Homo sapiens: one gene and its partner. The protein of the gene in region 2 purifies or fractionates together with the protein of the main gene of each other region. This does not show direct contact. Each region holds a gene or a part of one and is shown on either strand. Other genes may lie near its edges.

Region 1 (4,381 bases), 5.9 Mb from region 2:
GGAATCCAAGGACTAAATCTTGCTGTGGAGGAACAGGGACTTCTGTGCCACCAGCCCCAGGCCTCAACAGCCCCCTGCCACCTTCCCTTTCCTCAGCTGCGCCAGCCCCTACCACCCTCTAAGAACAACCCACAGACCCTTTTTGTTACAGTATCACAATGTTTTTAGCCACCACTCACTTGAAAAACTTTATGTACCACTATTACACTATGTGCTTTGATCACACTGTATGCCATCAACCCCACAAAGTAGATACTATCACTATTCTCATTCTGTAGAGGAAGAAATTGAGGCACAGGGATTTGAGTAACTTGCCTAAGGGTACAGGAGTCAACAGCAAAGTCTCAGCTCCTGGGCTCAGCCACCAACAACGTCTCAGCACTCCGAGGGCAGTGGCCACAGTCTCAGAACCCCACAGCTCCAGGCCCTCGAGCCACACTCATGCCGCCCCTCTACCTAGAATGCTCTTCCCTTCCACTTGGCTAATGGAGGGGGAAAAGCATTTCCTCTCCTCCAGGAAATGTTCCTAACCAAGTCCCCTGGGAATCACCCAGTACCTCTCAGGAGAACTTTCCACATTTATTATCTTACCGTTATCCAAGGGCTGATATGCTCAATCCCTGCACCAGCCAGTGAGGGAGGAGGCCAGAGACCAAGTTTGGCTGGTTCCTCAGGGTATCCCCAGGTCCCCAAGCAGCGTCTGCAGCACAGCAGATGCTCACTGATGCTCATCCACCTGTGATGCCTGAATGCATGAAGGCAGGCTCCGCATAGCCCTTTCATTCCTATGGATGTCCCCCACACCACCCAGCCACCATTTAGAGGCATAAGAACGGGGTCCAAGCTAAAGGTCAGGTGGTTCCCCCACCCCCAGTCTCAAGGAGTCCATGGGAATTGCTTAATGGCCTCTGATTGTGTAGCCTGCCCAGACATGGGGATGTTTGAGAATTCTGGAAGAACGTGGGCTGGGCGTGGATAGAGACGCCTGCTCCACCATGTATGCTGGAGGTGTGGATTACAACCCCTGTCCCCCATTGGAGCTTCCCGCGCCGTAATTAGCCTTGATCGCCTCATCCTGGCACACTAGGGCCAGCCACCTAGCAAATGAGTGGTCCCCACACTCCATCCCCATCCGCCCACCCCTCACAGCCCCGCAGGCCAGTTGCCCAGATCCACAGCCCTTACTGCAACCCCTTCAAATCCAGCCACCCTGAGAGATCCTGGCCTGGGAGAACTCTCCTTCCCTGGCCAAAGAAACGACAGGAGAGTTTACTGTCTGGAATACCTGGTGGAGAGAGAACAGAGGAGAGGAAGGGTAGGTCAGCCCCTCTTGCCCCTCCCCACCGCAAATCACACAGGCCCACCTCCCCGGAGTGGGTTTAGGGAGTCTGCACCTCCCAGTCCCCGCCCCCGCCCTCTCTCCAGCGCCCGCCGCCCTCCCCGTCGCGTTTCCTGCCCCCACCCCGCCCCTCTGCGCTATTTAAGGCGCCCCCGCCGCTCGTGCGGTCCAGCAGGGCTCCCGCGGGCGTCACTCCGGCCATCGTCCCCACCTCCACCTGGGCCGCCCGGCAGGCAGGCGGTGAGTCGGGGGCTAGGAAGGGACCAGGGGCGCCACCTGCTCGCGGGAGGCCGGGAGGAGTCTTGGGTCCTCCGATGCCGGGACGGGGGTTGCTGCGGAACGCCCGCCGCGACAGAGCCGCGCTCACCCAGGTGGCCTTGGCCAGGCTCCCACCCTCTTTCCATGGAATCCTTGTAACAACCCGAGGCGGGAGGAATACTATTGTTTCCACTCTATCGTGGAGGAGACTGAGGGGCCCAGAGGTTGTTCCTTATCCAAGGGGCCGCAGTTACTAAAAGGCAAGATTTGAACCCAGGGCCGCTTCCAGAGCCTGGCTCTAAACAGCTTTGCACTTGGGAAGAGGCACCTCCCCCTTGGGAACTTTGTGGCCTGTGCCTCACCCTGCAATGACAATTCCTTTCAAGAGTCTAGAATTTGCCAGCATCAGCTTTGGAGGTGGAAGGGGGTGGGAGTGGAGGTGGAGGAAGAAGACAGGACCAAATGTCCCTCCTCAAGTGGCAGGTGGTCATTATTGCTGACCGGTGGAGCTAAAGGATGATGCTGCCTTCAGCTCCTAAAACCCCTTCCACTACCCAGCCCCTGCAGGCTCAAAGATTAGAGTGAAGCCAGCTGGGTAAGATATGAGGCGGGGAGCAGGGACCTGAGGCTTTGAGCCCCCTAAGAAGCAGAAGATAACACCTCTACCATCATCACTAGCTCCCACTGTCTGGGGGTAGCCAGCCTTGGGCAAAAGGGAGGAAGGGCTTAGCCCAGCTGCACAACTTTGGATAAGTTCCTCAAATTCTGTTCCCATAGGCAAAGGAGCCTCAACTCCACCCAGATTTCCTTGGCCTGTGTCCATCCTGGGGCAGTGGCTCGGGGACAAGAGGGACATAGATGTCTGATTAGGCAGGGACCTTAGCCAAAGCAGAATGAGACCATACAAAGAGGTGGGCAGCCATCATCCAAAAATCTGGGTTGGGTCCTGCCTGCACTGCTGAGTGGGAGCCTCCAGGCCAGTCCTTCCCCTTCCTGAGCCTGGGTTTCTTTGTAGGTAGAACGGGCGTGGCAGACCTCCCTGCAGGCTTGTTGCTGGGCGAACGAGAAGGATGCCATGCTGACACACTGACGTGCTCTGTCTCCTTGCAGACGGAGGCCCGGGAGCCATGGGTGACTGGGGCTTCCTGGAGAAGTTGCTGGACCAGGTCCAGGAGCACTCGACCGTGGTGGGTAAGATCTGGCTGACGGTGCTCTTCATCTTCCGCATCCTCATCCTGGGCCTGGCCGGCGAGTCAGTGTGGGGTGACGAGCAATCAGATTTCGAGTGTAACACGGCCCAGCCAGGCTGCACCAACGTCTGCTATGACCAGGCCTTCCCCATCTCCCACATCCGCTACTGGGTGCTGCAGTTCCTCTTCGTCAGCACACCCACCCTGGTCTACCTGGGCCATGTCATTTACCTGTCTCGGCGAGAAGAGCGGCTGCGGCAGAAGGAGGGGGAGCTGCGGGCACTGCCGGCCAAGGACCCACAGGTGGAGCGGGCGCTGGCGGCCGTAGAGCGTCAGATGGCCAAGATCTCGGTGGCAGAAGATGGTCGCCTGCGCATCCGCGGAGCACTGATGGGCACCTATGTCGCCAGTGTGCTCTGCAAGAGTGTGCTAGAGGCAGGCTTCCTCTATGGCCAGTGGCGCCTGTACGGCTGGACCATGGAGCCCGTGTTTGTGTGCCAGCGAGCACCCTGCCCCTACCTCGTGGACTGCTTTGTCTCTCGCCCCACGGAGAAGACCATCTTCATCATCTTCATGTTGGTGGTTGGACTCATCTCCCTGGTGCTTAACCTGCTGGAGTTGGTGCACCTGCTGTGTCGCTGCCTCAGCCGGGGGATGAGGGCACGGCAAGGCCAAGACGCACCCCCGACCCAGGGCACCTCCTCAGACCCTTACACGGACCAGGTCTTCTTCTACCTCCCCGTGGGCCAGGGGCCCTCATCCCCACCATGCCCCACCTACAATGGGCTCTCATCCAGTGAGCAGAACTGGGCCAACCTGACCACAGAGGAGAGGCTGGCGTCTTCCAGGCCCCCTCTCTTCCTGGACCCACCCCCTCAGAATGGCCAAAAACCCCCAAGTCGTCCCAGCAGCTCTGCTTCTAAGAAGCAGTATGTATAGAGGCCTGTGGCTTATGTCACCCAACAGAGGGGTCCTGAGAAGTCTGGCTGCCTGGGATGCCCCCTGCCCCCTCCTGGAAGGCTCTGCAGAGATGACTGGGCTGGGGAAGCAGGTGCTTGCTGGCCATGGAGCCTCATTGCAAGTTGTTCTTGAACACCTGAGGCCTTCCTGGTGCCCACCAGGCACTACGGCTTCCTCTCCAGAATGTGGCTTTGCCTGAGCACAGACAGAGTCAGCATGGAATGCTCTTGGCCAAGGGTACTGGGGGCCCTCTGGCCTTTTGCAGCTGATCCAGAGGAACCCAGAGCCAACTTACCCCAACCTCACCCTATGGAACAGTCACCTGTGCGCAGGTTGTCCTCAAACCCTCTCCTCACAGGAAAAGGCGGATTGAGGCTGCTGGGTCAGCCTTGATCGCACAGACAGAGCTTGTGCCGGATTTGGCCCTGTCAAGGGGACTGGTGCCTTGTTTTCATCACTCCTTCCTAGTTCTACTGTTCAAGCTTCTGAAATAAACAGGACTTGATCACAAGTAGGTGTGTATTGATGCTATCATGATGTGCTGGGGGTTGGGGGATAGAGTTATTTTGCCCAGGCTTCCTTTACTTCTTGGTCCTGTATAATCTCTTTGGTCTCTATAACCCCCGATTCCAGC
Region 2 (3,806 bases):
CAGCCTCCCAAAGTGCTGGGATTACAGGCGTGAGCCACCACACCTGGTCCAAACTAGGGTTCTTAAGGACAACATTGCCTCTCCCTCTGAGACACATCCTCAGGGCAGAGCCAGACTTCCCCATAGGCTTATGTGATCCCCCAGACTGGGGGCCCCTTACAAGGGAACCTGGCAGAGGTAAGCAAACAAAACAGCCAGAGATGCAGACACCGAGAAGAGGGCTCACTTTATTGAGAAAACAGAAGGTTGAGTACTTGGTACCAAGATGGAGCCTGGGGTAGGCAAAAAGCCTGAAAACAAAGCTTTAAGCTTCCTTTTTTACATGCCCGCCTCCCTGCCCCTAATTGGGGCAGCTCCTATTACAGACCCCCAGGCATTCTTTTCCCTGTCTCTGGGCAAATGCCCAGTAGATTTTACCAACAGATGTCTGTTTCTGGGACCCAGGAACATGAGGGAAGTGTCTCAGTTCTTTTCCAGGATGGCAGAGCCTTCAGAACCATCAACTCCTACCCCTCCATCGTGCAGAGGCCCAGAGAGGGACAGAGACCTGCCCAACACCACAGCAATGAAGTGGACAATGAAGATTCAAAACCACATTTGCGGTCTCCTCATTCCGAGAGGAGATTCTAGATGAGCCCCGTTACAGGAGTGTATTTGCACCGGCACACGCCAAGGGACTCCATCCCCATGACGCAGATGGCCCGGGACCTTCTTCCTTTCCAGGCTGTCCCTTCCTCTTGGGTCCCTGAGAGGGCAGTCCTGGTGAGGGCAGGAGAGGACAGCTAAGGCTAAGGAGCTTGGGAAAAGATGTCCTCTTAAGAACTGCTTTCCAGCACATGTTGTCCCACCTTCTGAAATTCAAGGAGATGGTTAAAAGAGAAAAGCCTTTCTCCGGACCCACCTGCAGCATTAAGAACCATGGGTTGGGCTGGGCACGGTGGCTCATGCCTGTAATCCTAGCACTTTGGGAGGCCGAGGTGGGTGGATCAGTTGAGGTCAGGAGTTCGAGACCAGCCTGGCCAACACGGCGAAACCCCGTCTCTACTAAAAATACAAAATTAGCCGGGCACGTGCCTGTAATCCCAGCTACTCAGCAGGCTGAGGCAGGAGAATTGCTTGAACCCGGGCGGCGGAGGTTGCAGTGAGCCGAGATCTCGCCATTGCACTTCAGCCTGGGTGACAGAGTGAGACTCTGTCTTAAAAAAAAAAAAAGAAAGAAAGAAAGAAAAAAAAAAAGAAGCATGGGTTGGTGCAGGCATGGCCTAAAACATTAGATAATATGAAAAAAGCTGCATTTTATTGGGCACTTACTATGCACCAGGGACATTGTTCATTAGCTCAGTAGATAACTACTGTGTGTCCATTTGCATTTCCTGGGAACACTTTCATGACCAAAACAGACAAGGTCCTTCACTCATAGCCTCTTTCTGAATCTTCTCAACTTCTCATCAGCTAAGTGCTGTCATCCATGACTGAGAAATGGCTCAGAGTGAAATGACATGCCCAAGGTCACAAGGCAACAACATGGCAGTCAGTCAGAAAATTATCAAACAAGCAGGACTTCCAAGGCAAGGAAGAAATGGATGGGGAGAGGGATCTACCAAGGTTACAGCAGTTTTTTGAGCAGCTGGCACGTGCCTCTGCTGCCAACATGATGAGGTACAGAACCCAGCACAGGGAATGCTCAGCCTGTGACTGTGAGCTGGATGTGAGAGTCTCCTGAGGACCCTCGGTATACTCAGAGCATTTCCTCTCAGGGTGCAGGAAGAGGAAAGCAGAGGAAGTGGACTTGAAGGACCAAAGGTGGGATCCTAGCTGAGCCAATCACTGAGAAGCCATGTGGTCTTGGGCAAGTCATTCCCTTCTCTGAGCCTCAGTTTCCCCATCTGTAAAATGGAGGTAATGATACTATGCCTACCTCATCATCATGCTGTGAAGATTAAATGAGTTATGCCATGGAAGTGCTGTACATTACCCATTGATAATGTCTCAGTGGCCTCTCAATGAAATGGAGTGTGACAGAGTGCCACACTCTGAAACGGCTCATCCCCGGTGATGGTGCTGGGACTAGAACCCGGGCAACCTCGCAGTGCCATGCCCTACTGCATCACTACGTCCACCTCGAGGGCCCCCTCCAGCTCCTCTCTAAGCCCCATTTTGAATTCCCAAGCTGCCTGCAGCCTGAACCACACAGCCATCTGTCACCCAACTCTCAATATCTGCAAGCTCAGCGTGGGGCGGCCAGGTCCTGATTTGCTCCCGTCACTCCTCCCGGCTCCCAGAAATAAAGGAATAAATACATGATGAAAGAGAGGCATCTGTATGTGTTTTGTGTGTGAGTGCAGGGGCCAGGATCTGGGTGCCAGGGATGGGGGGTGGTCACTTCCTAGGGGCTTTGGGGCCGCTGGGGCCGGCTTCAGTCTGGATCTGCAGCAGGTGTTAGTGGGAGCTGGCAGCCAGTAGTCATGCCCTAGGTGAGGGATCTGCGGCTGACACAAAGAGAGGGCTGGCCTTTGGACAGAGACCCAGCAGGTGCCCAGCCTGGACTGTTGTTCTTCCAAGTCCTCTCAGGATGCTAGTGGGCCCTCTCCAACTTGAGGAGCATTTCTTTTTAATTTTTTTTTTTTTTCAGACAGAGTCTCGCTCTGTCGCCCAGGCTGGAGTACAGTGGCAAGATCTTGGCTCACTGTAACCTCTGCTTCCTGGGTTCAGGCGATTCTCCCGCCTCAGCCTCCTGAGTAGCTGGGATTACAGGTGCACGCCACCACGCCTGGCTAATTTTTGTGTTTTTAGTACAGACAGGGTTTCACCATGTTGGTCAGGCTGGTGTTGAACTCCTGACCTCATGATCCACCCGCCTTGGCCTCCCAAAGTGCTAGGATTACAGGCGTGAGCCACTGCACCCAGCCCTTGAGGAGCATTTCTAATTCCAAGCCCAGCAAGCCTCCTTAGAGCAGCTGCCTCTGGCACACGTGTAATTATCAGAGAATAAGCCTGTATCGAGGCCCCACTATGTGCCAGGCACTTTGGTGGCACTTTGCTTACCATATCTCTAGCTTTCAGAGAGTGCTCTCGTGGAGGTGAAGTGACTTGCCTAAGATCACACTGCTAGCACGTGGCCAAGAATTCGGCAAAGCTAGGACTCTTATTAAGTGAGGCTGATGATCGTATTAGAGATGGACCAATTCCCACATCTCAACTCTAGAAGGAAACTGAAGCTCAGAGAAGGCAAATCCCTTGTCTAGGTCACACAGCCAGTTAGCTTGAGAGCTGGGATTTGATCCAGGCTTGGGGGCTGCCTGGGCCATGTAAAAAACTAAATTGGAGAGCTCCCATCACCCTCCTGCCCTCCCTACTCGCATCCTCTCTTATGACACTTGACATTATCCATCACTCCCTCCTCCTGGGAACGCCCTCCTCCTCCAGTTTCCATGGTAGCACATTCTCTCCATCCTCCTCCTGCTTCTCTGGCAGCTTCTCACTCTCCATGGTGGCTCCTGGGCCAGGAAGCAAGGGGATCCCCAAGCTGGATCTCCAGTCTCTTCTCTCTCTCCATCACTAGCCCCGACAGCTCACCTACTCTTCCCTGTAGGTCTCTAGCTCTGACCCTGAACCCTGGCTCCACTTGTAAGCAGTGACTGCCACTTACCATGTACTTAGAGTTTACTTACGTTCTGGGCCTTATCCCTATACATACATTAAATCCTCACAACCACCCGTGAAGGAAGTCTACTCTACAGATGAGGAAACTGAGGCTCAGAGAGGGAAAACCAAGATCTGATTCCAGGCTTAACCACTACTTCTAC

What was found.
Region 1: the proteins of OPRD1 (region 2) and GJA4 purify together in Homo sapiens (affinity purification with western blotting, with the first as the bait; one study listed by BioGRID). This does not show direct contact.

Annotation. Positions count from the first base shown.
Region 1 is NC_000001.11:34,791,490-34,795,870, forward strand, and holds GJA4 (gap junction alpha-4 protein), read left to right. Parts: upstream 1-1,509; 5' UTR 1,510-1,579; exon of another isoform or gene 1,580-1,857; intron 1,858-2,612; exon of another isoform or gene 2,613-2,707; 5' UTR 2,708-2,724; coding exon 2,725-3,726; 3' UTR 3,727-4,258; downstream 4,259-4,381. UniProt on the Homo sapiens protein: One gap junction consists of a cluster of closely packed pairs of transmembrane channels, the connexons, through which materials of low MW diffuse from one cell to a neighboring cell.
Region 2 is NC_000001.11:28,867,663-28,871,468, reverse strand, and holds the end of OPRD1 (delta-type opioid receptor), read right to left. Parts: 3' UTR 202-3,806; downstream 1-201. UniProt on the Homo sapiens protein: G-protein coupled receptor that functions as a receptor for endogenous enkephalins and for a subset of other opioids.